Linked DNA regions of Homo sapiens: region 2 is linked to region 1. Evidence: fine-mapped expression QTL. Tissue or cell type: testis. Region 1 holds a variant in brackets; the other region holds the start of a gene. All regions are shown on one strand. Distances are from middle to middle.

Region 1 (17,190 bases):
TCTCCTGCCGAGTGCCTGCCGAGTGCCTGGGATTGCAGGCGCGTGCTGCCACGCCTGACTGGTTTTCGTATTTTTTTGGTGGAGACGGGGTTTTGCCGTGTTGGCCGGGCTGGTCTCCAGCTCCTAACCGCGAGTGATCTGCTAGCCTCAGCCTCGCGAGGTGCTGGGATTGCAGACGGAGTCTCGCTCACTCAGTGCTCAGTGTTGCCCAGGCTGGAGTGCAGTGGCGTGATCTTGGCTCGCTACAACCTCCACCTCCCAGCCGCCTGCCTTGGCCTCCCAAAGTGCCGAGATTGCAGCCTCTGCCCGGCCGCCACCCCATCTGGGAAGCGAGGAGCGTCTCTGCCTGGCTGCCCATCGTCTGGGATGTGAGGAGCCCCTCTGCCCGGCCTCCCAGTCTGGGAAGTGAGGAGCGCCTCTTCCCGGCTACCATCCCGTCTAGGAAGTGAGGAGCGTCTCTGCCCCGCCGCCCATCGTCTGAGATGTGGGGAGCGCCTCTGCCCCGCCGCCCATCATCTGGGATGTGAGGAGCGCCCCTGCCCGGCCGCGACCCCGTCTGGGAACTGAGGAGTGTCTCTGCCCGACCGCCACCCTGTCTGGGAGATGAGGAGCGTCTCTGCCCGGCCGCCCCGTCTGAGAAGTGAGGAGCCCCTCTGCCCGGCAGCCACCCCGTCTGGGAAGTGAGGAGCATCTCCGCCCGGCAGCCGCCCCCTCCAGGAGGTGGGGGGCAGCCCCTGCCCGGCCAGCCGCCCAGTCCGGGAGGGAGGTGGGGGGCAGCCCCCGCCCGGCAGCCGCCCCGTCTGGGAGGTGGGGGGCCCCTCTGCCCAGCCGCCACCCGCTCTGGGAGGTGTACCCAGCAGCTCATTGAGAACGGGCCATGATGATGATGGCGGTTTTGTCCAGTGGAAGAGGGGGAAGTGTGGGGAAAGGAAAGAGAAATCAGATTGTTGCTGTGTCTGTGTAGAAAGAAGTAGACATGGGAGACTCCATTTTGTTCTGTACTAAGAAAAATTCTTCTGCCTTGGGATGCGGTTAATCTATGGCCTTACCCCCAACCCCTTGCTCTCTGAAACATGTGCTGTGTCCACTCAGGGTTAAATGGATTAAGGGCGGTGCAAGATGTGCTTTGTTAAACAGATGCTTGAAGGCAGCATGCTCCTTAAGAGTCATCACCACTCCCTAATCTCAAGTACCCAGGGACACAAACACTGCGGAAGACCGCAGGGTCCTCTGCCTAGGAAAGCCGGAGACCCTTGTTCACATGTTTATCTGCTGACCTTCCCTCCACTATTGTCCTATGACCCTGCCAAATCCCCCTCTCTGAGAAACACCCAAGAATGATCAATAAATACTAAAAAAAAAAAAAAAAAAGAAAAACTTCATTGTTTGATAATGCTTCAAATTAAAACACAAAAACATTTCTGTGATGTGAAAATATCATTATTGTGGAAAATTAGAGAATAAAGAGAAAACAAAAAAATTAAAATATGTTTCTGCCATGAGGGATAATTACCAATAATATATTATCTTTTTTGTATATATACATTTATATATAAAATATTTTTTCAACAATAGGAATACACTGTTTATACCGGTTTATAATCTTTGACCTGACTTTATCAAACTAAGCTCGAAGTATTAGTGAAACTGGTTTTACTTTCATAGAACTCTTCATCGTCTATTTTGGCCTGTGGTTTGCCTGATTTTTGACGCTCTGACAATCTAATTCCCTCTGTTTTCTGTCTTCAGAGAATCTTTTAAAATTTCCAGCATGCTAACTGAATTCTTATTTTCCGGTGGAGTTAAGTTTTCAAACATTAAAGAAAAAGTTGTCAAGCCTTAGGCACATATATGTGAAAATGCCTGTGACATGTCTTAGATCCCAGCAGATATTTCTAAATATCATGCCCACACTTTTGTGATATAAAGCAAAATGATGACCAGTACCAGGAGATACTTTACCAATGTTTTCTTTATCAGTTCTACCTCCCTCCGAATATGAAATAAACTCTTCCCCTTTTCTCTATACCCAGCCCTTCTGTTTCCAGCTCTGCAAGCCTCAGGGAGACAATTTCTTAAGCCACACTTCTTTCCTTTGCCTAGGAAGCAAATAAACTACGTTTTGTTTTTATTTCTAGTAGTCTTTGTTTTATTATTTAATATTAAGTGTATAGATTCTTTGACATTCAAAGGATTTGAAGGAAGCAAGAGGGTAGAAATTTATATTCCCAGTCTTGATCCAATTTCTCCAAATTGAAGCTTTGTCTTCAGGAATACATAACTTATACAATTAAATGTATAATTTTATAGGGGATGTATTAAAATACCAATGAAATGAAATGCTGAGATATATTTTACTTTTCCAATTTTAAGGTCCATTCCATCTGCATATAATCCAAAATCTAATTTCCACTTTTTATTCTAAAACAGGCATATTTTTTGACATATATGAAGGACAGATCACTGCAATACTTGGGCATAATGGAGCTGGTAAATCAACACTGCTAAACATTCTTAGTGGATTGTCTGTTTCTACAGAAGGTGAGAAAACAGTTTTATAAAGTAAGTTGGCTGAAAAAGCAAGTTGTAAATTGGTTTGATTATGTAAAAAATGTTTCTCTAAATTGGACTTGTTACACAGTTGAATAATTTAGAGCAGGAAATATTGATTTCATATGCACATAAATTCATGAAAACATTTGTATCTCTATTCCACTATTATTTGACATTCCATGTATATTTTGCATTGCTGTGGACACAGATATTTACGTTAACAGTAATCTGAATTATTCAATGTATTAATTATGCAATTGGAAAATGTGAAGTTTCTTTAATAAAAACAAGTTTTTTGAACAAAATCTAAATACTAACATATATTATCACTCTGCATAGAATTAACATTCTGGCAGTAAAGCCTTTTAAATTTCTATTTATAGGATCAGCCACTATTTATAATACTCAACTCTCTGAAATAACTGACATGGAAGAAATTAGAAAGAATATTGGATTTTGTCCACAGTTCAATTTTCAATTTGACTTCCTCACTGTGAGAGAAAACCTCAGGGTATTTGCTAAAATAAAAGGGATTCAGCCAAAGGAAGTGGAACAAGAGGTACAGGAACACATTAAGATTGATGGCTTTGGAAATAATTTACTTTTGACTATATATTTTTTTTGTTCAGCTATTACTCTACTCTTTGATAGGTAAAGCTTAATCAACGAAGTTCTAGACTAAATCCTTTTCATTTTTAGAGAGTAAAAACTCCTTAAAGTAAAATATTTGATATTGTTAACACAGAGTTTTCTTTGATAGGTAAAAAGAATTATAATGGAATTAGACATGCAAAGCATTCAAGACATTATTGCTAAAAAATTAAGTGGTGGGCAGAAGAGAAAACTAACACTAGGGATTGCCATCTTAGGAGATCCTCAGGTGAGAGAAAAAATATATTTTTACAATTAATTTAGATTGAAGGATATACAACTATTATTAAAGTCCAACTTCTACTGTAATTACCAAATGTGAGGGAAAATTTATAATAAAGTACCATGCAAGCTTGTTAGGGATCTGGTGGAGGACTGTATTTGAGTCTAGAAATCATACTTGTTTTCATGGTGCTTTCTGAAGATCCTCACTGTGAAGAGGAAGATGCTTTCATACGTTTCCTCCTCTGTAGGTTTTGCTGCTAGATGAACCAACTGCTGGATTGGATCCCTTTTCAAGACACCGAGTGTGGAGCCTCCTGAAGGAGCATAAAGTAGACCGACTTATCCTCTTCAGTACCCAATTCATGGATGAGGCTGACATCTTGGCTGGTGATTCTTGGCTTCTTTATTCCAACTAGTTATTTAAGGATTTAACATGAGAGTTATTTTTCATAGCCTGTTTTCAAAAGAAGAAAATCTTGTTTGCAGTTTATTTGCAGAAGCCCATTTCAAGCCTCCACATGCCATTGGCTACAACAGGTCACATGGGGTGTAACCCTGCAAAGTTACATGGCAAAGTATGTGGACAAAGGAAGAGGTGAAGAATCAGGCCATCCTTGGAAAGTTTTGAGGCACTGGATTAGCTATGGGGAATGCAGTGAATTTCTGAGGCCTGTTTCACAATAGGCATGGGGATTAGAAATGATACTGCACCCAGGGGCTTAATGATATTACAGTTGTATTGATATTACAAATTTCATTCAGTGTTTTAGTATCCAAAGTAGAGAATATACCATATAAGGAATTACTCTTCACATAATTTTTTGAATCTTCCTTTCTACTCAGATAGGAAAGTATTTCTGTCTAATGGGAAGTTGAAATGTGCAGGATCATCTTTGTTTCTGAAGCGAAAGTGGGGTATTGGATATCATTTAAGGTATGTATTCTAGGTGTAGTTATTTTTAAATGAGCATATTAATATGAGGGTGACATTTTGTAGAAGCCTTTAGAAATATAAGAAAGGCAACTTAACTTCTGGTAGAAACTGTTTTGCAATAAACAGCTCAAAATGTCTTCCTCATTAACATTTCCTTTCTTGGTTATCTCTTGGTTTTAAGCATGCTAATTAAAAAACAAAGTATACTTCTTAATACAACTTTTTTGTTTGTTTGTTTGTTTGTTTGTTTTTTTGAAGACACAGTCTCGCTCTGTTGCCAGGCTGGAGTGCAGTGGCTGCAACCTCCAACTCCCTGGTTAAAGCGATTCTCCTGCCTCAGCCTCCCGAATAGCTGGGATTACAGGCATGCGCCACCATGCCCAGCTAATTTTTTGTATTTTTAGTAGAGATGGGGTTTCACCATGTTGGCCAGGATGGCCTCGATCTCCTGACCTCGTGATCTGCCTGCCTTGGCCTCCCAAAGTGCTGGGATTACAGGCATGAGCCACCGCGCCCGGCCTATACGACATTTTTAAGCCAATATTTGTATAGAAAAAAATTATCTTTATGTCCTCAATAAGCCATTGTTTACTTTTAGCAAAACAATTTGGCCTAAATTTCTGTAGTTATATTCCAAATCTAATTGATAGAATGGCAGAATATCACATGGGAACATTTTAGAAAGCATCAAATACTCACAAACAAGCTCTGCAAATAGAAGTTGTTGACATTAAGAGAAACCACTTAATGCATAGAAAGCAACTGTTTATTAAAAACCTTATGAATTTTCCAGTTATTCAGAAGCAATGTTTCATGTATCTTATATCCTATCATGATTGTTTTTTATGTATATCACACATGTAGCACAATAATGATAGTTTTATATATGTATATATACACACACATAAAATAACTTTTATACACATGTATTTGCATGTGTGTATGTGTGTTTGTGTATGTGTGTATGTATGCTAAAATGTCACTGTGCTTTAGTTACATTTAAAGGAATTGGTGTTGATATGTACTATAATTTTTCCATTTGAAATAATGCAAAATAGGCTACCAATTAGCACTTTGAAGTTGAATTAGCAATTTGAAGTGGAGTATCTGATTTGCAGGAACCAATTACTAGAGTTAAGTAGAATATGCCTGTAATACATATAAGCTGTTTAATAGAAAACTATCTTTTCATGAGTGGTGGTGTTGGAAAAGAATTCAAGAGACTTATGGCTCTTTTGAAATAATAGTTTACACAGGAATGAAATGTGTGACACAGAAAAAATCACATCCCTTATTAAGCAGCACATTCCTGATGCCAAGTTAACAACAGAAAGTGAAGAAAAACTTGTATATAGTTTGCCTTTGGAAAAAACGAACAAATTTCCAGGTAACTTACTGTGTAATCACATAGAATATATGTAAGTGTTCACGATTGTGCTGACTGCATTTTCTGTTGTTCTATGAATCGAGTTCTAAAGCTTATACAAATGAAAATATTTATTCATAAGTAATCTGTTCCTATTTCCAATATGATGATCTATGTTACCAGGGACGTATTATAGCAACTAAAATTTCCATGAATATAGAAACCCCGATTTGCACTCTTTGTCAAAATTAAACTTTGAAATATCTCTTTTCTGAAATAGCAGTTTCTGTTAGAAATACAGATGAAATGAGACTTTATCTTTTAAAATATATGTAAGCAGTTCAATAGAGTCTTTGAAAATTATAATAATTTTATTATATATATAAAATGGTTAGTATAGAAAAGTTAGAAAATACAAAGGATAAGGTATAACTTAATAAATTTTTAGATAGACATACAGATACATGCTTATACAAACACACACAGCAATAATGATACAAGAATTTTAAAGTTTATGAAACAAAATGGAAATGTAAAATATTAAAACTGATTTGAATGACAAGAGAATATCTTACAGAAAAGGTTTCCTTGGATTATTGTGATTGCTTTAATATGAAAACATTTGTAGACATCTATTTTGAGTAATATTTAGAAATTAGTATTTTAATATACTCATTGATAATTTTAATTGCGTTGACTTATTACTATTGGCTTTTTAGATCTTTACAGTGACCTTGATAAGTGTTCTGACCAGGGCATAAGGAATTATGCTGTTTCAGTGACATCTCTGAATGAAGTATTCTTGAACCTAGAAGGAAAATCAGCAATTGATGAACCAGGTATAAAAATGTGTGTCTAGCAGAAAATTAAGAAAAAAAAGAGAAGAGAAAAAGATGATGTTCTAATTCATATTTGTAGATTTTTATGTGGATTTCTACCTATAATATGCATTAGATAGAAAATAGCATTGTCCACTAGATAGAAAATACTAGCATTGTCCAGTATTATAATCATTTTATATCGAGTATAATCAGCCTTGGTGCTAGGCAAATTGCTTTCCAACATCTGTCTGCTTCCCATGTCAGTGACAGGCACATCTCTTTGCAATGACCACTTCTTCCTTATTATCAAAAGCTCTCTGCTATAGCGATGAATTCTGCTATTGCCTCTTACTTGCCATTCCTTATAAAAATGTGCTCTTAATTAGCTAATAAACTAATTCTAATTAATGTATTAATAAGAAGTAATAAAATAAGATGTTATTTCCTTAGTTTACTTTGTAATAAAAATTAGAAGAATTTAGGAGGCTACTATACATAGACCAACGGAACAAGTTAGAGAACCCAGCAATAAAGCCACAAACCTACAGTCATCTGATCTTCAACAAAGCCAGTGAAAACAAACAATGGGGAAATGACTCCCTATTCAATAAATGGTGCTGGGATAACTGGCTAGCCACAGGCAGAAGATTGAAACTAGAGCCCTACCTTTCACCCTATACAAAAATAAACTCAAGATGGATTAAATACTTAAATGTAAAACCTAAGACTATAAAAACCTGAGAAGAAAACCTACAAAATACCATTCTGGACATTGGTCCTGGCAAAGACTTCATGATGAAGACTCCAAAAGCAATTGTAACAAAAAGAAAAATTGACAAGTGAGACCTAATTAAACTAAAGAGCATCTGCACAGCAAAAGAAACTATCAACAGAGTAAACAGACAACATACAGAATGGGAGAAAATATTTGCAAACTATGCACCCAACAAAGGTATAATATCCAGAATCTATAAGGAGCTTAAATCAGTAAGCCAAAAACAACCCCATTAAAAAATGGACAAAGGACATGAACAGATACTTCTCAAAAGAATACATACATGCAATCAACAAGCATATCAAAAATGCTCTGTATCATGAATGAATAGGGAAATGCAGATCAAAACCACGAGATACCATCTCACACCAGTCAAAATAGCTATTATTAAAAAGTAAAAAAATAACAGATGCTGATGAGGTTGTGGAGAAAAGGGAATGATTATGCCCTGTTGGTGGGAATGTAAATTAGTTCAGCCACTGCAGAAAGCAGTCTAGAGATTTCTCAAAGAACTTTAAATAGAACTATCATTTGACCCAGCAATCCCATTACTGAGTATATAGCCAAAGGTATATAAATCATTCTGTCATAAAGACATATACAGATACGTTCATTGCAGCACTATGCACAATAGCAGAGACATGGAATCAACCTAGATGCCCATCAGTGGTGGACTGGATAAAGAAAAGGTGTTACATGTACACTATGTAATACCACGCAACCATAAAGAATGAGATCATGTCCTTTGCAGCAACATGGAGTAAGCTGGAAGCCATTATCCTAAAGAAATTAACACAGGAACAGAAAACCAAATACCATATGTTCTCACTTACAAGTGAGAAGTAAACATTGAATACACACGAATACAAAGAAGAGAACAACAGACACCAGGGCCTACTTAAGTGTGGAGGATGAGAATTGAAAAATGACCTAGTGGGTATTATGCTGATTACCTGGATGACAAAATTGTCTGTACACCAAACCCCCAAATCCCCATGACACGCAATTTACTCATGTAACAAGCCTGCACCTAAATGACACACAGTTTACCCATGTAGCAAGCCTGCACCAAAAATAAAAATTGGAAAGAAAAAAAAGAATTTAGGAGGCTACTAGATACCAGCCATTGTACTCAGTCCTTGAATTATATTGTTTTAAATTCCCATAATAACATCAAGCTGCCCATGAGAAAACTGATATTTGAAGTTGTGTGATTAGCCAAAATTATACAGTAAATGTGTGGTATATGTGGGACTCAAACAGGAGGCCTTTCCATGAACTTTCCATCATTTGAAAGCACAATGTCTTGAACTCGTTACTGAGATGTCAATCATCAGTGTTGAACTAATCCTGTAGGGGAAATTCCAGATGACAGAGGAGGCCTGTTGGAAACTCAGCTACATAAATTTGTCTTTGTGCTTCTGCATAAAACTTGCTCTGCAAAAGTATCCATTAGTGAAGAGCTACTGTTATTGGTATGAAAGAATAAATGCTTGTTAGGAAGCCTTAATCATCCTCAAAAATTAATTTACTGTCTCATTGGAACTGAATCCATTACATATGTTTGAAGGAAAGATTTTTAACGTAAATTTTGATTATGGATATCAGTAGCTTAACTTGTTGGAAGTGCTGTTTCAAATAGTCTAACATCATTTTCAAAGTTTTTAAAGAGAAAGTTCAGATAACATAGCCTATTAAAATGTTTTATTACATGATTGTAGATTTTGACATTGGGAAACAAGAGAAAATACATGTGACAAGAAATACTGGAGATGAGTCTGAAATGGAACAGGTTCTTTGTTCTCTTCCTGAAACAAGAAAGGCTGTCAGTAGTGCAGCTCTCTGGAGACGACAAATCTATGCAGTGGCAACACTTCGCTTCTTAAAGTTAAGGCGTGAAAGGAGAGCTCTTTTGTGTTTGTGAGTATCAGATTACTTTATATCTATTTGGTCAGTATATGAAAAAACATTCAAATATTAAGAAAGTAAATATATTAATTTATTCATTCATTTAACAGTTTTTTTGTATGTTTACCTATCCTGCTGTTACTGAGGAAAAGGGCCT[G/C]ACTGCCTCATGTGCTAGAAGCCAATACTGTGACACTGGATTTTTGAGGAAAGAAAAGGTTTTTATTGCTAGTTGACTCACAAGGAGACAGGAGACCAGCTCAAATCTGTCTCCCTGTGCTGACTTTAAGGCAGTAATTTTATTAGCAAAGGTTTAGGGGGTGGGTCCTGGGATTAGCATGGTAGAAGAAAAGGAGAGGTCTGGAAAGTCCTCAGGCATGTACAGATATCTCTTCATGCCTCCTCATGTATCCCTTGTGCAAATTCAAGCGCAGTTGGTATGAAATATATGGTGGAAATTCAGGCTGTGAAGTCGGCAGGATGATTCTGGACCGACTGTAATTGGCCATATTGGTTTCAGCTGATTTCAGCCAGTTTTATTATCTTACAAGCTGAGGGAGTTTCAGTGTTTCAGCAAATTGTTTCTTTTTTTTTTCTTCTTTCAATCTGACACCCTACAAACTCAATAATTTCTGCTAGTCATTGATTTCTTTAACTCTTTGGGGCACAGTTTTACTACTGTAGTGAACAAAATTGATAAGGCCTTTAAACTTGTTCCATTATATCACAAATCTTTATTGAAGCCTGTTATAGTATACTAGGCATTGTTCTAGGAGCTTTGGTTATATTAGTGAACACAAAAGGCACAGATCCCTACTCTAATGGTGTTTACATCTGGTTGGGTGGAAAAGATGAAAAATACTGAATATAAAACTAAATAACTTATATGCCAGGTTATACAAACTAGAGTAGAAAAGGGGATAGGGAGGGATGACAGGAGTTGGAGGTACATTACAATTCTAAATAGGTTTGCTGGTGTTGGTCTTACTGAAATTGTTACGTTTAAGCCAAGATTAGAAAATATGGAGGGTTAATAACAGTTGAGAAACAAAGCATCCATTGGATTTGGCAAAAGGGAAGTTATTAAAGGTTTTAGCAAGAGAAGGTCTGAAAGTAGACAACTCTTTTGCGGTGCTTGACTGTGGAGCGGAGTAGAAAGAGCAGAAGCTAAAAGGCAATGTGAAGTCGGGAAGAAAGTTGATTTTATAATGAATGAGAGATAGACGGAGGGTGGAGAGTTTGGATTCATCGCAATGTTGACAAGGACTGATCTTTTTGTTAGGAGCAAAGATCTATTATCTACTTCAACAGAATAAAAGAATGAGAGGATGACTGAATCTGTGTATGTGTTTTCTTTTCTTTTGGCGGCGATAAGATGAAGGAGTTTCTGTCCTATAGACTCCATTTTTTTTTTCTATGAAATATATGGCTGATAGGGAGAAGGAGGTAGAGTATGAAGTCTGATGGGAAAGTAGTCATTGCAGAGTGGACTCATGGCTTATTAGAGAAACAAAGATTGCTTGGAAGCATTTCACTTGCAATTTGAGTTGGTGGGATGACTTCTAGGATATAAAAATAGTGTTTTAAATATTGCATTTAGTTTCCTGAAAATTAAAATATTTGTAAACTAACAATTGAAGAAAGTTAAAATTTTACTTGCAATTGTGCACATAGCAAGCTTGAGGCTGCAGTGTAAAATAGGGCTTCTTTCTCATCAAAAGTACCCAAGCAGGCAATTTGTGGCCCCTGTTATCTCATAAAATCATTTCCTGTGTTTTCCTGGTAAACCAGCATACCTGCAGAGGATTGCCCCTGGATTCCACCTTTTCTCTTGATGCTCTGTTACCCTTGAATATCTTCCAATGTGATACAAAGTATGTAATTTTTTTGTGCTGATTTTCAGATTACTGTCACTGTATGTTTCATTTTATCTAACTAAACACCACATATGCATGTGGACTTTCCATAGTTAGCACTTATATAGCATCTTTGTGACTTAAATAACCAGAGGAAAATTGCTTCAGACTCATGTTATAATTTTGTTTTACTTAGGTTACTAGTACTTGGAATTGCTTTTATCCCCATCATTCTAGAGAAGATAATGTATAAAGTAACTCGTGAAACTCATTGTTGGGAGTTTTCACCCAGTATGTATTTCCTTTCTCTGGAACAAATCCCGAAGACGCCTCTTACCAGCCTGTTAATCGTTAATAATACAGGTGAGAAATGGGGCTGAAATTTAGTGTGAGTTTTTATTATCAAAGATCTTTAGAAAGCACATACCTGAGAGACAATTGAAAACAAAAATGGTGTCTATCCAGCTTGCTCCATTTTCAAATGAAGGAAACTGATGGGTTAATTTTCTTTTTTAATATTTTTTATTTTGTATTATCTTTATTTCAATAGGTTTGTGGAAAACAGGTGGTGTTTGGTTACATGTATAAGTTCTTTAATGGTGATTTCTGAGATTTTGGTGGACTCATCACCTGAGCAGTGTACACTACACTCAATGTGTAGTCTTTTATCCCTCAACCCCGTCCCACCCTTTCCCAAGTCCTCAAAATCCATTGTATCATTCTTATGCCTTTGCACCTTCATAGCTTAGCTCCCACTTATAAGTGATAACATATGATGTTTGGTTTTCCATTCCTGAGTTACCTTCACTTAGAATGATGGTCTCCAACTCCATCCAGGTTGCTACAAATGTCATTACTTCATTTCGTTTTATGGATTAGTAGTATTCCAAGGTGTGTGTGTGTGTGTGTGTGTGTGTGTGTGTATTTAAAAAGTTATATATATGTATGTGTGTGTGTGTATATATATACACACACACACACACACACACATATACATATATATATAACTTTTTTAATCCACTTGTTGATGGATGGGCACTTGGGCTGGTTCCATATTTTCACAATTGTGAACTGTGCTGCTATAAATGTGTGTGCAAGTATCTTTTTCATATGACTTCTTTTCCTCTGAGTAGATGCCCAGGAGTGGAATTGCTGGATCAATCGGTAGACTTACTTTTAGTTCTTTAAGGAATCTCCACACTGTTTTCCATAGTGGTTTTACTAGTTTATATTCCCACCAACAGTGTAAAAGTGTTCCCTTTTCATCACATCCATGCCAACATCTATTATTTTTTGATCCATCTTCAGGTCTCGCAGCCGTGGGTACCAGCACCTGTTCTGGTGGAGGTAGCAGGGGAGTGAAGTGGACTCTGTGAGGGTCCTTGGTTGTAGTTTTGTTTAGTGTGCTGGAACAGTGTTGGTCAGCCTCCAGCCTGGAGGTGGCACTTTCAAGAGAGCATCAGCTATGGTAGTATAGGGAGGATGCAAGCTTGCCCTAGGGTCGCCTGGATAAGTATTCAGGTTTCTCAGGTGGTGGGTCAGGGCCATAGAACTTCCAAGAGATTATGTTTACCAGGGCGGGTGGAGAAAGACCAGCAGGTGAGGGCAGGGTTAGGCACGTCTGAGCTTAGACTGTACTTGGACAGGGCTTGCAGCAGCTCCTGTGGGGCATGGCCGATGGAGTTATGTTCCCAGGGAGATTATGGCTGCTTCTGCTGCATCGTACAGGTCGCTAGGGAAGTAGGGGAAAGCCGGCAGTGACAGGCCTCATTCAGTTCCCACACAGCCCGCAAAGTGGTCTCAATGCCCCTACAACAGAACTGAGTTTGTTTCCAGGCAGCTGGTGAGCAGGACTGAGAACTCACCCCATGCTACAAGACTCCCTTTGAGAAAGCAAGCAGGGCTCTCCGGTTATGTGCCTTCCCCCTGCCATGGCTTCTGTGCTTGAATCTGCACTCCCTGATCATTCCTTCCCCAAGATTCTGTCCAGGAAACTATGCATTTGGTTAAAATTATTACAAAGTTCAGCTGGAAGTTTCCTTCTTCCTGTGGTCTTTCCCCAATTCCACTGGCAGCCCTCCCCAAGGACCCCTCTGAGACAAAGTCAAAAATGGCTTCCCTGGGGGCTGAGAGTGCCCACAGGGTTCCTCCCACTGCTTCCTCTACCCCTATATTTCGCTTGGCTTTCTAAATTCGTCTTAGCTCCAGGTAAGGTAAAATCCTCCCGTGATCTCAACCTTCGGATTCCCCAGTGAGGATGTGTGTTTGGGGACACACATTGCCCTTTCACACCGAGGGCACTCAGTTTTTCAGCTGTCTCATGGAGCCTGCAGCTGCAAGCCGCCTCTTTCAAAGGATCTGTGGATTCTCTCCCTGATGGGTCCTTTTAAATCCAGAGCTCCCTTGGTGCGGGGGTGGTTGATTCAGATGTGGAGGCTGCATCATAGCTTGACTTCTCCCTGTGACCAACTTGACTTCCTTTCCATCTATGATGGAAATCAAGTCAAGAAAAATAATGGGCACAATGGCAAATATCAAGTTAACTTAATTCCATAAAGATGTTTTGAATGGGTTACTAGTACTTTAAATATCATGGCAAGGTTAGTGCCATTTAAGGTTGACAGGATCACTAGAACAAGCCTGGGTCATGAGGTATATTTTGTATGTATTATTCATAATTACAAATATTACAGGGTTCTGGTAAAGTTTATAAAAGTCACTCCTAGCAAATTTTCTTCCTGTGAGAAATGCAATCTTATTTTCATAAACTCTTTTCACCTGGTGAGAATTATAAGATAAATGAATATATTTCTGAAAAGAATAAAGGAGTCCGTCACATTGAAGATAGTAAATGGAACTTAATGTGGTAGCATCAGAATGAATAGTATTGTACTCCTAAAGAGCAAGGCTCTTTACTAAGCTATTCTGGGTTTTTCTTAACACGATTGGCAATCATTATTATTTTAAGCTTTGACTTTGATTTTCTTGCTTTTTTTTTTTTTTTCTTGTTGCCTTCCTTCCACTATGTTAGGATCAAATATTGAAGACCTCGTGCATTCACTGAAGTGTCAGGATATAGTTTTGGAAATAGATGACTTTAGAAACAGAAATGGCTCAGATGATCCCTCCTACAATGGAGCCATCATAGTGTCTGGTGACCAGAAGGTATGTTTGCTTCTATGCACTGTTTTTTTTTGGTTTTTTTTTGTTTTTTTTGCCACGTCCTAATACTTAGAACTATAGGAAACTTAAGTATGTTTTCTAAATTGGCATCATATTAGAGGAGGCTTGAAACTTTCTTTGTCACATAAAATATAAATATTTGACATCTTTTCATGTTAGTAAATGTTAATCCATTTCATTTACAAAACAAGTCACTTGAATTACAAAAATAATGCATTCTTGTACCAATTCAAAGAAGGCAGAAGTGTCAAAGAAAAATTAATAGTCTCCTTCTCATTCTAATTCCACTCTGGTAATATACAAAGTATACAATAAATATATTTACTATAAGAATTTATAACTTATATTTGTGTACTTTTTTTCAAGGATTACAGATTTTCTGTTGCGTGTAATACCAAGAAATTGAATTGTTTTCCTGTTCTTATGGGAATTGTTAGCAATGCCCTTATGGGAATTTTTAACTTCACGGAGCTTATTCAAATGGAGAGCACTTCATTTTCTCGTGTAAGTAGAGTATTCGACTTATATAAGAGGCAACACAGCAGAGGGATAAAGGATGAGGGCTCTAGAGCCTACCATGTGAGTTCAAATCTTGTTTCTGCCACTTAACAGCAAGTTTCTTAGCTACTCCTTGCCTTTGTGTCTTCATCTGCAAAGTAGGGAGCGTAATAGTACCTACTTTATAGAATTATTGTGAAGATTAAATGAATTTACTGAGTACCTAGAACATAGCATGGCATACATATATATATATATTTACATATAAATATATATACACATTTAAATTTATTCAATAACTACTTCCTGAGTGTACTATTTTCTGGTACTTCTAGATGTTGAGAATACAGCATGAACAGAATAGACAAAAATCTCACCCATATGGAGCTTACGTTCCTATAAAGGAAAGAGGAAACATTCAAATACATGTTTGCTATTACTTATTCTGAAAGATCAAGAATCTTTCAAGTACTGTTATGTTTAGTCTAATTAAATTTTTAAAATTCAAAAGTTTTATGGAAAAATTTAAATATATAATTATTTACTTAGTAAATTAGATGTAACCTATCACTTCCTATCCCTTATCCTGATTTATTTTTTCCATTACATTTATTACCACTTGGTATGCTGTAGAGTTATGTTTTATGGCTGGCCTCACCCCTCTAGTTTAAAATCTTGTCTGATTAAGAATCACAGTCCAACACAGAACATTAGAAGAGCCAAGATCCAAAAGGACACTGCAAAATTTAAAATAAAAGAGAAAAAAATCATAGGACTGTTGAAAACTCATAATTTTGACTTTGGTTTACCATATACAACTTACTAGGTACTCAATGCGTATTTACTTAAATCAGTGAATGGATTTGGTTGGAAATGAAGAATATCAGAGATATCTTAAACCTAAATCCTTAATTTTATGTCAGAGTGTCAGATTTCCCTGGAGAGTTAGATGAATATAAGACATATACGCTGATTAATGCAAATGCAAAAGAGTGTGTATGTATGTATACACACCCACATATGTATATGTATATCTCCACCAAAGGGATTTATGATAAAATATGGTCCAATTCTAAAATTATGATTTTTTAACAGTTCTATTGTTCTTTGTCATTTAAAATTCTGCAGTGCTTTTTTTTGGTTTGGCTTCTTTATGTTTTATAACTTGGGGTGTGAAGTGCAATTTTTGATCAGATGCAATTTAGTTATTCTTTCTAAATTGTCAAATTCTTAACTGGTGTGTTTGATTATGATAGATAAAAAAGGGAAAAAATTATAGAAATCATGTGGATGTTAGCAAGAATATGCATAGTGGTTTTAGATAATGAAATTTTATTGGAAAATTGCATAATAAGAAATTAATACCATATAATGCAAACTCTAGTTTTCTGCGAATGAGATAGGGTGATTTAATTGTAAGTAGAGAAACTATCTAATATAAAACAATACAGTGTCTCTCTGGATGGTAATAGCAATGTGCTACCAGTTCAGAGCAAAAATAAGAAAAATATAATCAAAACTTAGTTCTGGTAATTTCTCAAGAGTGAGATCTAATATAATTTCATCTATTTCCCAGTACTTCCAGAGTTAATCATGCCTTTATTTACCCTTAATTGTTTACTTTTAATATAGAATCGATGTTGTCTTCCCTTTTTTTTTAATCAATCTCCTAACATCCTCCAGGACTTTTCAGCAGATGCTTTAATGCTTAAAGACCCTCCTAATTTATTTTTCAGTGGAACTGAGTTCAGACTCAGTTTGTCATTGTTTTTCAAATATGAACTTCTTGAAAGTAATAATTATACTTGACTTATTTCTAGCACAAAGGATGATGCATTGCACGGAGCAGAAGCTCTATAAATATTTGTTGAATGGATGAATGAGTGGGTAGACTGGATAACTGGTTATGCTGTGCACCGTTTGTTACCATTATGGCACAGCTTTCTCTTCTGCAAGATGGGAACTGCAAGCAGATAATCTGTAATAGTCCTGTCTTTAAAATTTTTTTATTTTAATACTTGCTTTTTCTACCTCATAAAGTAGACGTAACATTCAACTAAGATATTATTTTTAAAAGTGTTTAATGTATCGCACAACCATGAGCCATTATTATCATTACTGTGGAAGCATGTTACAGTTAGCCTTTGTCGGACAAACTCTTCATTACTGTAAAGACATAAAAATTATCTTGCAACTTTTAAGTAATATGATTTAAAGGGCTTTCGGATTTTTCAGAATTGAATGTATGCTGGGTTTACTGAGTGCAAACCACTGTAGTTCACCCTGCATTTAATAAAAAAGCTTTCTCTGTAGGGAAAATAGGTCTGGCTGAGCATGAGCCAGCTCTGGAGGAAGAAAGATGGTATTTGGGGTTTTCCCCTCAATGGTAGCAGGAAGCTTGCCAGGGCCTCTGGGTGTTGCTA
Region 2 (17,190 bases), 43 kb before region 1:
CACAGAACAACTCTGTCGAAAGCCTGACACTGAGAGACTTGACCAAATTTTAGCACGGCCTCTAGCAGCATAAGGCAGTGTCTGTAGGGTGATCGCAGGTCCCTACCCCCATTTAAATAACAGTCTGAGAAAGCTCAATACTACCAGAAAAATCTACTTTTTGTTGTAGCCAACACATGATAACAGGCCCCTGATCTGATTTCTTAGAGCATTTATTTACTAAAAGGAGCTTACAATTATAAATATGTATCTTTTGCAGCTCACATGTTTCTTTCTCCAACGACCTGGGAACCATTCTTTTTAAAAATAGTTATCAAGAAGGATAAGGCCTCTGTCTTCCAGTCTCTGTGAGAGGATAGAATCCTAACTGATAATTGCCAGCTAAGAAACACAGCTGACCTAATCACATTCACACTGACCAACCCTTTGTACTTTTCTATTTCTCTGACTCTGCTGAGCCCCTACAACCTCCCTACTCCCACTCTCCTTTTTAAACACCCCAATCACCTCTGTACAGATCAGAAGGCAGCTCAGCTCTTTCCCCTACTGTCAGTAGTTACCAAATAAAATTTGTTTTCACTGCTTTAGTTTTTAGGCCATGTTATCTTTGACAACAGCTAGGCTGTGGGGGATGGGGACAGTGATCCACAGTTATGGAGATATTTAATAGAACATTGCATCTGTAGGGGCCAAATGAATGGATCATCAATGGAGTACTCATTCTTTACAATTAAATCAATGATGGGTGATCAGAAGGTTGAAGACAATTGCCTCAACAGAAGGTCATGAGTCCTCTCTGGTTTCTGGATCTGAGCCAGTTTTTGTACCCACAACCAATTGAAAGAGAAGTTGGGTCCCTAGGAGGAGGGACCCTGCAAATGATATATGGTATTGGTTTCCTCAGACCTCCTCCAAAGTAATCTATAGCCTTTAACTCAGGTAATTATATACTGGAGAAAACAGAATGCCCAATCATTTTAAGGCCTGTTTACCACAGGGTCAAAGTTGACACAAGTCCAAAGACTCAAAGTAAAGTATCATCATGCCCTCTCTGACAGAGTAAGAGGCATTTGAGTTCTAGATAATAACTAAAATCCTAGCCTAGAGCTAGTTCATAGAGAATCCACTAGTCTGTAGACCTATCTGTCATGTCTCTAGTCCCTGATTTGTAATTGGAATAGATATACATGGGAGTTGGCATAACCCCCATTGTTTTCTTGACCTATGGGGTAAGAACTATCATAGTGTGTATACTAGTTTTCTAGGGCTGCTGTAACATAGTACCACAAATTGAGTGGCTTAAAAAAACAGAAGCTTATTCTCTTACAGTTCTAGAGGCCAAAAGTCTAAAATCAAGATGTCAGCAGGGTTGGTTCATTTTTGGATACTCAGAGGGAGAATCAGTTCCATGCCTCTTTTCTAGCTTCTGGTAGTTGCTGGAAATTTTTTTTTTTTTTTTTGACAGAGTCTCACTCTGTTGCCCAAGCTGGAGTGCAATGGCGTGATCTCAGCTCACTGCAACCTCTGCCTCCCGGGTTCAAGCGATTCTCTTGCCTCAGCCTCCCGAGTAGCTGGGATTACAGGTGCCTGCCACCATGCCCATCTAATTTTTGTATTTTTTAGTAGAGACAGAGTTTCACCATATTGGCCAGGCTGGTCTCAAACTCCTGACCTCATAATCCACCCACCTTGGCCTCCCAAAGTGCTAGGATTACAGGTGTGAGCCACTGTGCCCGGCCAGTTGCTGGAAATTCTTCATGTTCCTTAGCTTGCAGATGCTTATCTCCAATCTTGTCACATAGCTGTCTTCCCTGTGAATGTCTTGTGTCTTCTTCAAAGGTTGCCAGTCATTTTGAATTTAGGGCCCACCCTACTCCAATATTACCTTGTCTTTTTACATCTGCAAAGATCTTTTTTCTAAATACAGTCACCTACTGAGGCTTTTAGGAAGGACATGAATTTTGGGGAAATTACAGTGAGAAAACTGTACTAGCCGCAGTCAAGATAGGAAATAAAAACATTTCATTTTGGGAGAGGGAATGGGAAAGGAATGGAAGAAGTTAGTGCCACCCTTAAAGACCTAAAGATGCAAGTGGGAGGGGGATGGTCTTTATAATATTTCCGTGTTAAATATACTAATCTTGGTCCTGCAAAAATCCAGTTCTAGAGGAGGATATTAGTCTAGAGCAAATTCAGCCAACTGTTGGCTTCAGTTGAGTAGATTAACCAGATGTGCTATCTTTGCCAGAGCTGATTAAGAAGAGCTTCTGTCATGTGGTATACAGCCACTGATTTGGCAAATGGCCCATTTTCCATTCCAATCAGAAACATTTTGCATTGATCTGGAATGTACAAAAGTATACATTTTGCTCTGCCCTAAGGCTACGTTTAGGGTTTTCTTTCTCTCTGCCAATAAATTCCAAAAGAGACCTGGATCAGCTGGTCATTTCATAGAACGTAAGACTTGTCGACTCCATTGATGACATCATGAATTAAATGAGTAAGAAGTGGCTAGTATATTGGAAGCCTTGGTTAGACATTGTGCTACAGAAGGAGTATATCAAAATCCCATGCCATTAATATTTGACCAGAAAATAATAACTTTTGCCATTTCCTCTTCACTATCCAAAATATACTGGATTTCTCCTTAGGAAACTTATTTTGCACTGAAGTGATTTGCTATTGTTTAATACAGGGTATCTTAACCTTGGTACTATTGACATTTTGGGCTGGATAATTTTTCGTTGTGAGAGACTGTCCTGTGTGTTACAGGGTATTTGTAACATTCTTAGCCTCTTCCCACCAGATGCCAGTAGCACACTCTCCCAAGACCAAAAATGTCTCCACACTTTGCCAAATATTTCCTGAGGGAGGGTTGGGGTGGGGGTAGGGGGAGGAAGACAAAATTACTCCCATTTGAAAATACTGATTTAATGCATTGATTTGGGTTGAAAATTGATTCATTTATCCAAAGGCGTCAGTGGAAAAGTTTGTTTTAATTATTTTCTGTAGTTTTTCCATACACAAGTAATGTTTCATACTCAGTGCTGAAAGGAGGTAGATTCTTGATTCTGGTTCACTCAGATTGAGGTAGTAGGGAGAAAATTTCGATTCTAATCTTGTAATAAATACATTCTATCAGTTTCATAGACTCTGTCTGCAGACTTATTCTCAAGGTCTTTGTGCATATTTGAATGCATGTCTTCTTTCAGTGCTGTTTTCAGTTAATCTTAGGTTGTCTTTGAATATTATGTGAACTATCTTCTTACATGTGAAGTTACTTATTTGCTATTCTTAAGTCATTTCTCAATGGGGTTCCCAATTTGGGACTACTCACTTTGGGCAGGGGGGATTTACAAGCCTGCATTATAAATATTAGAAGTAGGTGCCCTGGATAAAAATAAACTGTTTATAAAGACAGTGTGGCCGATCCACAAGTTTGAATAGCTTTGCTTACATTTTGAAGTTCAAAGAAAGAATCTTTTCAAAAAATCCTACTACTATTTGACTTGGCCATATATATATAGGTATTGTAAGATGCAAACCCAGGATCTTATCTTTGTCCTCATGGTTATTCCCATGCAGCTGAGGATACAAAACCTATACAGCAGACAACTGAGACAAAAGTTGAGAACTGAATTGTATAGAAAGCCACTGGAAGTTTTCTTTTGCCTAGTTAAAGCTCAAAAGAATTTACAATGTACAATTTAAATTCAGAGTTGTAACTGTGCTGGGGGACAATGAATTTTACACTGAAATGTGACAGTGTCAAGATTATTTAAAAGTATTGCATCTCTAACTTTAAAATTAAGGTTTTGTTTTTGTTTTTTTTGTTTTCTTTTTTTTAAATCTCAGTAACCATGAGAGATACAGTTTCTAATCCTGCCAGGTGGAAGCAGCACAATGCAAGGTGTGGGTGGGTGCCTAGTAGAAATGGGACAGAAAAAGAGTGAAACTCTGACCACCAGATGGCAGCAGAGGCTTGTGCCAAAGGGATACCTTTCTGGTCCCAGAAAGGGGTGGGGTAAGGCCGCTTGAGTAGTGGCAGTGACAGCAAGGCAGTCTAAGAAGCCAGAACTGAATGAACTAAGAAGCCAGAGCAGAACTCTTCTGAGCCAGAGTCACCCAAGTGCTAGTTCATTTGAGAAATGGTGAGGCAGTAATAGAGTTCAAGAGGTTAGAACAAAGTAAGAGGGGTGAGCCAGAGGATACTCCTAGCCATTCAACAAACTTAAAGAAGGCAGAACAGCTAGAGGTTGAAAAGGACAGGAATGGTTCTTAGATAGGACAGGACAAGAACCTGAAGTTAGATTGTAATCACCGGTTATAAATCCCTCCTTTGGTCTCTTTGAGGAGCCACAAAATAGGAAACGTTTCAGGCACTCTCCAAATGGCACAGAATCTAGTTATCTCTAATATTGAAAGTAAATTTTATTGATAACTGGGATAACTTGGAGGGAGATGGGCAGAGATGGTTAAAGGAAACCTCCAGAAATGGTGTTGTTTATCGTCTTTTTAAATAAAGATGTAACCATAGTCTCAAATCTAATTTTTTACTTCTCATTTCTTTTGCTTCAAAAGGGAAAACCAGTGATAGTCACATCCTTCAGAAAAATTAGTTAATTTTTTTCCTTAAACAAATCATTACTTAAGAATTTAATTGATAATTCCCACTGGGAGAAAGCATCAAGATGAGCAAAAAACAAGTGGCATTTTATTTGGAATATTTAAGAAGTAAAACAATTCCAATTGTTAGAAGAGACTTGACGTATAAGAACTAAGCATTAAAAATGGTAATTAAGATTAATTGAAGGTTTACTCTGTGAACGCCATTGTTTCATTGCTCTATGCAAATTTTGTAGAGCAAAAAATTCATTGACCAGCAGCATCAAAATTAACTGGGGAGAGTGATGCCAGCAAGATGACATAATAGAAGGTAACCCACTCATTACCCGCCACCCCCCATAACAACAATAATTCTGCACCACCACAGACCAAAGTCTCTGTGCAGGAGCCTCAGGATTCAGGTATAAGATTGTGAAACCCCAGTGGATCCCAAGACCTAGAGGTTGTTTTGAGAGTGCAGACTAGCACCCTAGTGGCTGATCTGCTGATTTTGCTTCTGGGTTCAAGCCTGGAAATGGTTCCATTCCCCAAGGAGCTTGGCTAAAAACTCATTTGGTCTTGAGCCTACAACCAAAACCATCTGCCAAGGAGTCCAGAAAGAATCATGTACACTAGTGCCTCAACAGAGAGCCTCCTCTGACTGCTGACAATGAATCTGAAAGTTGCCCTGTGACTTGACTTCAGCCCTTCTCTGCTAAAGTCCCAGCTCAGAACTGCTCACACAAGGACCTAGAGTGAGACTCGCCCATGTCTTGCATCCTGGGAGTCTGAACTTCCATGTTGTGCTCTCCAGCCTCTGTCCCATAATAGATCCTGAGGGAAGCCAGCCTCAGTTCTGACCCCTCTGCAGTCAGGGAACTAGCCCATCTGTGCAGAGACTTGCTGGGAGATGCACACTCATCTGAGCCAATAAGATAGGCTTGCCAGCTGCCTTCTGCAGGAGATCCAAGGGTCCCCAGTCTCAGCCCTGGCCTCACCTGCTACAATCAATGAACTACCTCACCTGTCCAGGGACTGTAGGAGATGGACATCCATCTTAGCTACCAGAACAGTCTTCTGGGTTTAGGTTTCTGGCCAGATTTTTCATACAACCTGGGTACCCTTCTTTGGTCTTCCCCAGGTCTATCTGGGCTAGAAAGCTGCATAAATCTCAGAGCTCTCCCAAGACTCATAGCAAACCTGGGCTTAGCATGCCCTTTAATGCTCTAATGCTGAGACAGCTGTACTGGTCTTGGGCTCAGGGAAGACAACAGTCAGTCTCCTTAGAGTCTGTGGAAGATCTCCTGAAGAAGAATGGATATAAACAAAGCCAGATTGGGGAAACTAGAATAAATGCCTAATCCGTCAATGTGCAGACATTGTCACACATCCACAAGCATCAAGAACATTTAGGAAAATATGACCTTACCAACTGGACAAAATGAGGCACCAGGGACTGGCCCTAAAGTGATGGGGATTGTGATCTTTCAGACAAAAAATGTAAAATAGCTGTTTTAAGGAAGATCAATGAACTTCAAGAATATACAGAAAAACAATTCAGAAATTTATCAGATAATTTAATGAAGATTGAAATAATAATTAAAAAAACCACAAACATGCCGGAGTTGAAAAATACAGGGAGCATAATGAAAAATGAAATAGAGACCATCAAGAGCAGAACTGATCAAATAGAATAAAAACATTAGGGAACTCAAAGACAGGCTGTTTGGAAATAATCAGAGGAGGTAAAAAAAAGAATGAAAAGACAGTGAAGAAGGCTTATGGAATTGATGGAACAACATTAAAAGAGAAAATATTCCAGTTGTTGGAGTTAAAGAGAGAGTTGAGAAAGACAAAGCAGTGTGAAGGTTATTCAAAGAAATAATAATAGGACTTTCCAAACCTGGAGAAAGATATAAATATACAGGAACTGGAAGATCACAGCTAATCAATCAGATTCAACCCAAATAAGAATACCCCAAGATATATTATAATCAAACTTTGGAAGGTCAAAGACAAATAGAGGACCCTGAAAATAGAGAAATAAAAGAAGCAAATAGCATATAAGGAAACTCCAATACACCTGACAAGAGACTTTTCCAGCAGAAACCTTACAGGCCAGGATGGAGTGGAACATGATGTATTCAGAGTACTGAAGGAAAATAAAACTGCCAACCATGAATACTGTATCCAGCAAAGCTGTCCTTCAGAAATGAAGGAGAGATAAAGACTTTACTAGACACACAAAAGCTGAGGGGAATTCATTACTATCAGACCTGTCCTATAAGAAATGCTGAAGGGAGTTCTAATCTAAAGAGAAGAATGCTAACATGATTGTTATTCTAATACTGTAATTGTGGAGCATAAACCACTTATATCGTTAGTATGAAGAATAAAAGTCAAAACTATTAAAAATAATAAATTATTTGCTAAGAGATAGGCAATATAAAATGTAAAATTTAAAAATTGTGACATCAAAAATTCAAAATGTGGGAGGAGAATGGAATTAAGTGTACAGTTTTTTTATTTTTCCTTTGCTATCAAAGTTAAGTTATTTTAAAATAACTTGTTAGATGTTTTTTTGTCAGCCTTACGGTAACCACAAAGCAAAAACCTATAATAGATATATTAAAAATACAAAGCAAGAAATCAAAACACTACTAGAGAAAATCATTTACACACAAAGGAAGATTGTAAGAGAAGAAAGGGTCCACAAAACAACTAGAAAACAGGTATCAAAATGGCAGCAGTAAGCCCTCATCTATCAATAATTAACTTGAATATAAATGAAATACATTCTTCAATCAAAAGACATAAAGTGGCTGATTGAATAAAAAACAAGACCCAACTATCTGCTGCCTACAAAAGACTCACTACACTTGTAAAGAGACACATAGATTGAAAATGAAGAGATGGAAAAAGATATTTTATGCACATAGAAACAAAAAAAAGAGTAGGAGTAGCTATACTTATATCTGATAAAATAACCAAAACTTTAAAATGAGATAAAGCCATTATATAATGATAAAGAGGCCAGTACAGCAACAGGATATAATAATTATAAATACATATGTACTCAACATAAGAGTACCGAAATATATAAAGCAAATATAAATAGATCTAAAAGGACAAATATACTGCAATAAATAATTGTAAGGAACTGGAATAGACAGATCATCCAGACAGAAAATCCCAAAGAAACATTATAATTAAACCACATATTAGACCAGATGGATATAACAGACATTTATAAAACATTCTGTCCAACAGCTGCAGAATACACATTCTTCTCAACAGCACATGGAATATTCTCCAGGAAAGGTCATATGTTAGGCCACAGAACAAGTCTCATCAAGTTTAAAAGAATCAAAATTACATCAAGTAGCTTTTCTGACCACAATGGAATAAAACTAGAAATCAATAACAGGAGGAACATTGGAAATGGTACAAATACACGGACATTAAACAACATCCTCATGAGCCACTAATGGGTCAATGGAGCAATTAAAAAGGAAAATATTTAGAACATTCTTGAGTCAAAAAGGGGGAACATGATATACTAGAACCAAAGGGATACAGCAAAAGCAGTTTTAAGAGGGAAGTTTATAGCAATACTTGCCTACATCAAAAAAGTAGAAAGATCTCAAATAACCTAACATGGCAACTCAAGAAACTAGAATAACAGGAGCAAACTAACTCAAAATTAGTAGAATGAAAGAGACAAATACACAGGAGAATGCCATTTGAAGACACAGGCACATAGAAGAGAGAATGCCACGTAATGACAACACAGATATTAGAGTTACGTATCTGCAAGTCAAGGAATGACAAGGGTTGCTGGCAATCACCAGAAGCTGGGAGAGAGAGCATGGCTTTTCAGATAGGACAATGATTTTTGGACTTCCGGACTCTGACACTTTGAGCAAATCAATTTCTAAGGTACCCAGTTTGTGGTACTTTGTTATGGCAGCCCTAGGAAACTAATACAATGGAAATTTGGGCAGGGAATGTAAGAAGATGAGCTAGTTTATAAGATATTTTATAAGATAAGGTAGCTTAAGAAAGCTGGCAGTGACAATATTTTCTCATATGTAATTGCCAGTCATATGTAAAGAAAGATGGAAGGAGAGAAGAGATTGTAATAGAAATTAACAATAAAATAAAAAGAGATAACCAAGAGAGCTAGATTTTTAGATTAGGTAATAGAATTTGATCGAAGGATTCTGCAGTGGTGTTGAGTTTAGAAAAAATTGGCTGAGTTTCCTCTGGGAAATTAGAATGAAATAGAGGTATGTGGAGGAAAACTTCTGCCAAATTGCCTCTGATTGTTCATTAATATAGTACATTTACCTGCTGAAAGCCATCGTGCTTTCAGGGGTCAAGGACTCAAGAGTAAGGAAGAGTTTGATGAGGAGGTGCTAGTTGGTATTATGTAACGTGGATGTGCATAAGCCTAAATCTGGAGTATTTCAACATTCTGACTCTGTAGCAGAACTGTATAATTATAAATATGTAAAGGCTAAGAATGAAAAGGGTCCAAATCCTATTATAAATGTGTAACAGAGACCTGAGGATTTTATATGACCTCTCCAAGGGACACAGACAATGAGTGACAAGTCTGCAATGCAGGTCTCAGACTCCCAACTGTACCGTATTGGAGATTGAAATCCCTAAAATTATTGTCTTAGCTTGTTTTTTATTGCTATAACAGAACACCACAGATTTAGTTGTACCCAGCAGACTGGGTAATTTATAAAGAAAAGAAACTTATTTCTCACAGTTCTGGAAGCCGAGAAGTCCAAGAGCATGGCACTGATATCTGGTGAGGGTCATCCCACAGTGGAAAGGTGAAAGGTGGAAGCATGTGCATGAGACAGAGAGAGAGAGAATTGGGCCTAACTCATCCTTTTATCAGGAGCCCATTCCCAAGATAATAGTGTTAATCCATTTATGAGGGTGGAGCCCTCATGACCTAATCACCACTTCTAAAGGCTACACTTCTCAATGCTGTTTCATTGGTAATTAAATTTTAACATGAATTTTAGAGGAGACATTCAAATCACAGCAATTATGGAAATAAAAAATATTTTAAAAATTTGGTGATTAAGAAGGGTGTATGTCTGTATTATAGTATGATTTTAATTGTTTTCCCCACCCATTTAAGTGAATATTACCATTAATGTCTGGGATCGGAACCAGGTTAAGTTTCATGTTTTCTATTTCATGAACTTTTACTTCTAGTAATGATTTTGCCTGAATAGGAAGAGAAATGTCACTAACAACAAAGGAAAGCAATTAAAGTATGCTTCCTTTGTTGTTAGTGACATTTACAATTAAAGGAACCATTTATTTCCATATTCCTAATGAAAATGGTAATCATTTGAAGAGTCTCTGAGTCCTTTACCCTTTCTGTCTCTGTCACTTTCATGAATGGGCATTAGCTTCTGTATGCATACCAAGAAGTGTATTATTATAGTTAAAATCACATAAAAAGATTTTCAGGGTTGATAAAGAGGCATTATTTGCCATTCTGAGAATATCCAATTTAGTTGTAGCTGAAAAAAAAGTAACAAAATCATTAAAGTTATGCCATCTAGTCTATACCACTACACTTTTTAAATGGGTATCAGATATCATTGTCTTGATTAGCACCATTTTCATAGTGGTAGTTAAGAGTGAGGGATCTTGGAGTCCAGATACTATTCTGGACTCATCTGTTGGCTTCACACTTATTTAAACATCTGCAAATAACTTCACCTGTTAGCCCCACCTTTCAAATTTGTTTAATGGATGTGAGTAGAGTACCAACTTTGTAGGTTTGCTTTGAGTATCAAATGGGAGAATTCATTTAAACCCTTAGAACACTTTCTAGTACATAGGAATTAGTGAATACAAGGAACCATTTAACTGAAATGCAGTTAACTTTCAGATGAAACTTTCTCATTGGAATGATTCAGATTTCTGAGATGAGCAATCCTCATTTTCTCTCTCTCTGTTCAACTTTATCTTTAATTTGCTCCTTTTTTAGCTTGGCTGTCAAATTTTTAATTATTAAAAGTCATGCAATTGTAAATATGTAGTTATCCATGCAATTGTAAATATGTGGGTTTTTCTTTTTGAATTTGATCTCTTTTTTTGTGTGTATGCCAAAAAGAGCAATAAACAAATACCAATGATGCGCTCAGCCAACAATTCATTACACTCTCTGAAGAGTAACTGGACAAGGAGAAAAACATAGGGAAAAAACCAACAGAATTTGTTGGCATGTTCTACACACAGACCATGGCTTTTCAGAAGCCAAGCTGAATCAAAACAGTTTTAAAAGAGGCAACCATTTGTAGAGGAGTCCTTGAAGGATTCTTCATTGTTTTCTTGGACAAAAAGAGACCAGTGGATCCAAGTGCTTCAAATACTTCTCTCTTATTTTCTTAACTGTAAGTTAAAATTTGTTTTACATTTTCACTTTGCATAAGGTTTTAAAGATATAAAGTATATAGCCAAAGCCAAACATATTGATTGAAATTTTTAAAATTATATTATTCAGATGCTCTAAATTATTTTATGCTTTATGTTATAGTACTAGTGAGTTATTTTATTTTAAAAACTTATGTAACATTTTAGTGTGATAAATGAAAGATGGCTAGATTCAGAGGTGTATATAAATATTATCAGACAATAAATTCTCTCTCTGACACTGCTTTGAATATCCTTTTGAGAATTTGTATGGTTTTACTTCTTTAGAATGTGTGAGCATTAGGGCAAGTTCCTTTTTTCTGTGTTCTTTTGTTCTTTTAAAATGTTTTTGTGGTTTGCTTATGGAGCTGTTTAAGTAGACCTCTGTATCCATAAAGTGAAGATTGGTGTTTTAATGTTTCTACTTTCTTAAGTTAGAATTTAGAGATTATATTGGGTTTTGCTGGCTTTGCCTTTTATTTTATGAAAAAGGGGAAATATAGCAAGTTCTCTCTGAACATTGTAATTTGTATATAATATCAACATTTATTCAAATGGACTTCAGTAGTCATAGTTGTGACACCAAATGATCAGCTCTGGATTTTCAAATTGAAAACAAAGAATAAGGATCATTATTACAAATCAATTACTCTAGTCATATTAGCCAATATTTTTGGTTTTAATCTGTATGTATCTTACATATTTACTTCATAAATGGAGATTTAAAAAAGAGGAATTAGCTTTTTGGGATTCTAAGAATGGCCGTAATGTTTTCGACTTTGCTTTGCCCAGTGGTTAACAAGATATCAAATACATGTGCCCAGATGTGCAATTCAAAATAAGACAGCTTGTGGTCAAATTGCTGACTGACAAGGAACTGCAAAGTGGTTTCTTCCTGTTAAACTTCTTTTTCTTAACAAGTAAAGAGAAAGTGTTTTTTGGATTCTAAAAATTACTAAGATCTTATTGAGGGATTTACTTTAGGTGGATGTAATGTTAAGATTTCATGGAAAAAAAGTGACTTCTGAGACAAAAGGAGAAAGGTCTTATATACTATCTCCTTTATCTCCCTCATAGCCATAAAAGCCTGGAGAGAAATAACAACTGAGAAGACATTTTATAATTACTAATACTTTATATTCTTTTTTAAAATCCTGATTGAATATGTTGCTACAGTGTCATATAAGGCATTTAGTTGGCACATCTGAAAATTATGCTTTCAAAATGTTCAAAGGCTTTCTGTAACTGAACTTTTTTTTTTTCTTTTTTCCCCTAGCTATTGCTCTGCAATATTTACTTTACCCTGTTAATGAACAGGACAAAATGGTTAAAAAAGAGATAAGCGTGCGTCAACAAATTCAGGCTCTTCTGTACAAGAATTTTCTTAAAAAATGGAGAATAAAAAGAGAGTTTATTGGTATGATTCACTATATATATATATATATATCCATAATTAATAAATGAAAATCCACCATATAGTATTATGCCATTTTTATTACTTTTCTTGTTTATAAATTCTGATTTTTAATTATCATACTGGCTAGTTGATTTGAGATTCTAAATACTGCAAAACGATATATATTTTGCAAAATAGGATAATATTTGTGTCAAATGTGAAATTAACTAAAAAGCTCATCTGACAGCTCCTGAAAAATAATCTTTTGCAGAATAGAACCAGCCATTTTCCACATAATTAATGCATTCAAATCTCAGAGTCATTCTGATTTACTCTTAGCTAACTTCTGTGTTGGGGGCAGGGACAGCCAGGGGAAAGATAAGCTAGGCAAAATAAAATAGATTTTTACGTGGGCAAACCCTGATACTATTTGGGGACATTTCGATTAATGTCATGTTATTTGGTAAGGCTGGGAAAATATCTATGAGTAAAAATCTGCAAACTTTTTTGGAATCTCTTCAAAGCCGTGCTTTTTGTAAACATAGAATGGTTTCATGGAATAAGATCACAGATTGTCAATACCTTTGCATTCTGTTGAGTTTCTTGTATGCTGACATGAATATTAAGACATTGCTTTGTGTTACTATGAGATATAACTGGATCTGCCTTGACCATGTAGAGATTGCAGTCTGTTCAGAAATAGTCAGTACCATTTCAGTGGGAGCTAACAGGATTTATATCATCCTTTTAAATTTCTGCAATAGCTTCCGAAGCAGTTCGATCAAATATTTTGCTTCGTATATTGAAGAAGGATACATCTATATTTATTACTCACTAGAATTTAAAAAAAGTATGTCAATCCAGAAATGTGAAAATATTGGTACAATGAACACCTATACATCCACCATCCAGATTTGACAGCTGTTAACATCTTGCCATCTTTGCTTCATCTCTCTGTCTCCTCTTCTTCCCTAAAATATATGTAATGGCTAAATATTTTAGTATCTCAAAAAATTAAGAACTTGGTTCCCTACATTACCACTATCCCACTACACAAAATTAAAAATAATTCCATATCATCTAGTTCCATGGCCAAATTCAATTTTCCAAATTTCCCCCAAAATGTCTTTTAAGGTTGATTTGTTCAGGAACCAATGAGACAAAACTAGTTATCCTGTTGAATATTCCATGTTCTCTTTTTATCTGATTGCCTCTCCATGCTGTCATTTAAGTCATCCCTTTATCATCTATATTTTTTGTAAGCAGTGAGCTGGATCTAAAAGCAGGATCCAATTCTGGTTAAATATTTTTGGCAAGAGTATCTTCTGTGTGATGCCATATACTTACGTTGCTTCAAATATGAGGGCATAAAATCAATGGCAGTCCCACTAATAGGGGTGCTAAATCACTGGGTTAAGATTGATTGCAATTGTTGATATTATCTCAAAAGTTGTGTATTTTTGAAAGGGTGTTTTTTTCTTTAAAAGGTAGATATTAATTTGGGCAGAAAAAAATTACAGACTGAAATGAAGTCATGCTCAATGGCAATACATTCTGCCTTAAAAATGTGTTTGGATGTTTCTCACTGGTCTGGACCACGTTATAACATGGCTCATTTCTCTTTTGTGTGCTGGAGGAATGGACAATAACATTGTTTCTAGGGCTATATTTGTGCATCTTTTCGGAACACTTCAGAGCTACCCGTTTTCCTGAACAACCTCCTAAAGTCCTGGGAAGCGTGGATCAGTTTAATGACTCTGGCCTGGTAGTGGCATATACACCAGTCAGTAACATAACACAAAGGATAATGAATAAGATGGCCTTGGCTTCCTTTATGAAAGGTGTGTTGTCCAATAACCAATGTTTCAGTATTATGTGACTTAATTTTCAAGTTCTTTTTGCAGGTTGAATTTACTTACCTAGCCTGTGTGTCAGTGATTCTCAACTGAGGCAAAGATTCTCATTATATATGCAGTACAGGGGTTGGTGTGAAGCTAAGGGTAGGTGGGCAACAGATGAAATGATTTACTTTTGTTTGTTTGTTTGTTTTTAATGATATGCATACCGTTTGCCCTTTATACTAGAACATATTGTTGCAGTAGGAAAAAAAGATTGGACCCATTTTAGATGATACAAATTTCACTTTTCCAAAACTTAACTTAAAAAACTTTATATTTGGGTTGGTATTCTATAATTTAAAGAGTTTCAAAAAATTTTAAGGATTTAATTATTTTCAATTGAGATTGAAATAAATATAGTTCCCAGTATATAGGAATTATAAATCAAAGGTGTTTGAAATTCAAACTCAAGCTTAGCAATGGTGTTGAAAAAGCATTACTGTTTGGTGTATAAAAATAGTTAAAATGTACAGCTCAGGGCATTTAAAATTATTTAAAATCAAATCAGGTATTGGCTACTGAAAGTCAACAAATTCACAGCCCTTGATCTTAGAGTAGTGAGGCTTTTTTTTTTTTTTTCCCATAAGACTTTTTCTGCATATCTGGACTCAGAAAATAGATGTCTCTATGTTATGTAGGATGCTGCATTAATTTGATGTATGCATCTCATAAAGAAATAAGAACACCTGAGAGTCCTACTTACTATGTGAGACCTTTGCCTACCATCCTTTATATCTCTACTGCCATTAGGAGTAACTATTGGTGGTCAGCTGTGGTCTCTGGACTCTCCATAGAGGCCTTTGCTCCTGCATAGGGAAAGTATCAGGATAAAATGTTCTTTTCTTCAGCAATCTTAGCCTACTATCAAATTTCTCTTGTTGTTAGCCCTCATTCTGCCAGGGTTCTGAACATTGGCCATTTCATCCTTTTGTACATTTTATCCAATCTGTTAACGTCTCAGCTCTAATCACTGCTTTTTCTTGTCTTTCTGAAACTTTTATTTAGTTTTTTGGTGTCTGGATTGCCATGCCAAGGGACACCTCCAAACTCTGAATTTTAATTATTTTATGTGAGTTGCTAATATTCTGTGCCTAACCTATCCAAGCTTTCGAATGGGTATTGTTATCCCTGGCTGCTTTACCCTGTTTTGTAATTCTTCATTGCAGTTTCTGGAGCTTTGACTTTGGTGGGCCTCCCTTACTTGCATTGTTTACATGTTCTGCCTGACCACAGTGTTGATTCTGCCCTGATCTGTCTCTATTCACTTCCTTTGTGTAGTCATTTACCTCATTTTTTCTGAACTCATGAAGCATTTACTGAAGCCTCAGGGACTATTCTTCCTGTATGCACAGTGTAAGCTAATAGCCACTTTCTGTCTTAGTCTCACGGACCACTGGACTCTGTCTCTTTCTTATATAAAATATCTCATTCCAGCTACCATGCTCGCCTGTTCCAACCACAGCTCCTCTCTCACTGTCTTATTCTACATTTATCTAACTCTTGCTTTTTAGCATAAATATTCATGGTTTGGCCTTGACAGTATTTTTTATACCCCTAGAGAAAATCAGTGATGTTAGCACTGTCCTCATAAAAGTTTCACCGCCTGACTCTATATTGGGAAGGATGAGGAGTTTTGAAAGGTATGGCTACAGCATAAAATAAACAGCTTTTTCATCTTAATGTAGATTTCACCCTGAGTGAGATACAAAGTTAATAAAATTTTTAGAACATAATACATAAACGTGAAAAAGGAGGCACTAATTGGACCAGTGATTTTCAAAGCTTCTGTTAGTAATAGATCTATTAAACACTTAGTGGGTGGATTACTCCTGCAGATTGTAAACTCATTCATTTATGCACTGATTACTATACACTTAATTCTTAGAGAGTGTTCTTGACCTCAGAGAATCTGTAGGTAGACTATATTTTTTATTTTTGTACTCTGATTTTTTGTATACAATTTACCTCTAGTGTACTATTTTCATGTGATATCAGTTTATAATCTTGGCAGAAAAAGAGAAAACACCAAATTCTGAGTATTTGTATTGCTTACTTTAAATATTTTTCCTTTTAATTCTTAAATTATTTTAGTCACTAAAGTAATATCTACTTTAAAAAAAGTTGAATAGTACAAACTTGTATGAAGCAAAAATATGAGAGCTTTTCCTTTCATCTTCACCACTACTTCCTCTCCTCCCCTACCCCCTCTCCTCCCCTACCCCTCATTCAAATTGTGTATATCCTTCAAGGCAAATATGCACATGGTCATATATAGAGTATGTTTCTATGCTTACATAGGCACATAAATTCAGTTTTCTTTACCAAAATGAGATCACACTAAAAGCAATATGCTGCAGATTTTTAAAAGACAATGTGTCCTTTGTGTCTTTTCATGTATTTGCATTGAACTTAAAACAATAGTTTCACTCAGCCTTTTACTAAGAGGCAGCTATCCAGAAATAATATATAATACCACTAATTTTATATAAAACAAGCAACTGTATTTTGTTTTTGTGTCCTCTAGTAATAAGTTTACATGATTATTTATTTATGTTTTTCATACATGGTAGGAAGAACAGTCATTGGGACACCAGATGAAGAGACCATGGATATAGAACTTCCAAAAAAATACCATGAAATGGTGGGAGTTATATTTAGTGATACTTTCTCATATCGCCTGAAGTTTAATTGGGGATATAGAATCCCAGTTATAAAGGAGCACTCTGAATACACAGGTAACTATAAAAAAACTGATTATAATTTTTTTTTGATACTTCATGGAATCCCCTGTTTGGAATGACTGATAGGAATATTAATACAACCAAGTAAAGAATTAAT

Direction of the effects. Positions count from the first base shown, and alleles are read on the strand shown. Sizes are in standard deviations (SD) of each study's normalised expression.
With allele C in place of G in region 1, the expression in testis of the gene that starts at base 10,796 in region 2 is lower (moderate effect, 0.58 SD a copy in GTEx).

Evidence for each region.
Region 2: it holds the start of ABCA10, and the variant in region 1 is fine-mapped to the expression of ABCA10 in testis (GTEx, PIP above 0.99).

Annotation. Positions count from the first base shown.
Region 1 is chr17:69,179,736-69,196,925 of GRCh38, reverse strand. ABCA10 (ATP binding cassette subfamily A member 10) reads left to right here. Exons shown (of 39, transcript NM_001377321.1): 12 at 2,431-2,541; 13 at 2,937-3,112; 14 at 3,314-3,433; 15 at 3,678-3,816; 16 at 4,273-4,363; 17 at 5,611-5,750; 18 at 6,449-6,568; 19 at 9,047-9,245; 20 at 11,283-11,449; 21 at 14,118-14,251; 22 at 14,636-14,773. Among named protein-coding and RNA genes, the nearest start is that of ABCA10, 40 kb to the left of the region's middle. RefSeq lists a silencer at 17,052-17,190. The variant G/C (reference allele first, on the strand shown) is at 9,391.
Region 2 is chr17:69,222,430-69,239,619 of GRCh38, reverse strand. ABCA10 (ATP binding cassette subfamily A member 10) reads left to right here and starts at 10,796. Exons shown (of 39, transcript NM_001377321.1): 1 at 10,796-11,039; 2 at 12,335-12,475; 3 at 14,091-14,295; 4 at 16,923-17,087. The coding sequence starts at 14,262. It overlaps PRO1804 (a long non-coding RNA gene), which reads left to right and starts at 4,608. Exons shown (of 1, transcript NR_130736.1): 1 at 4,608-6,645. RefSeq lists a silencer at 6,676-6,876.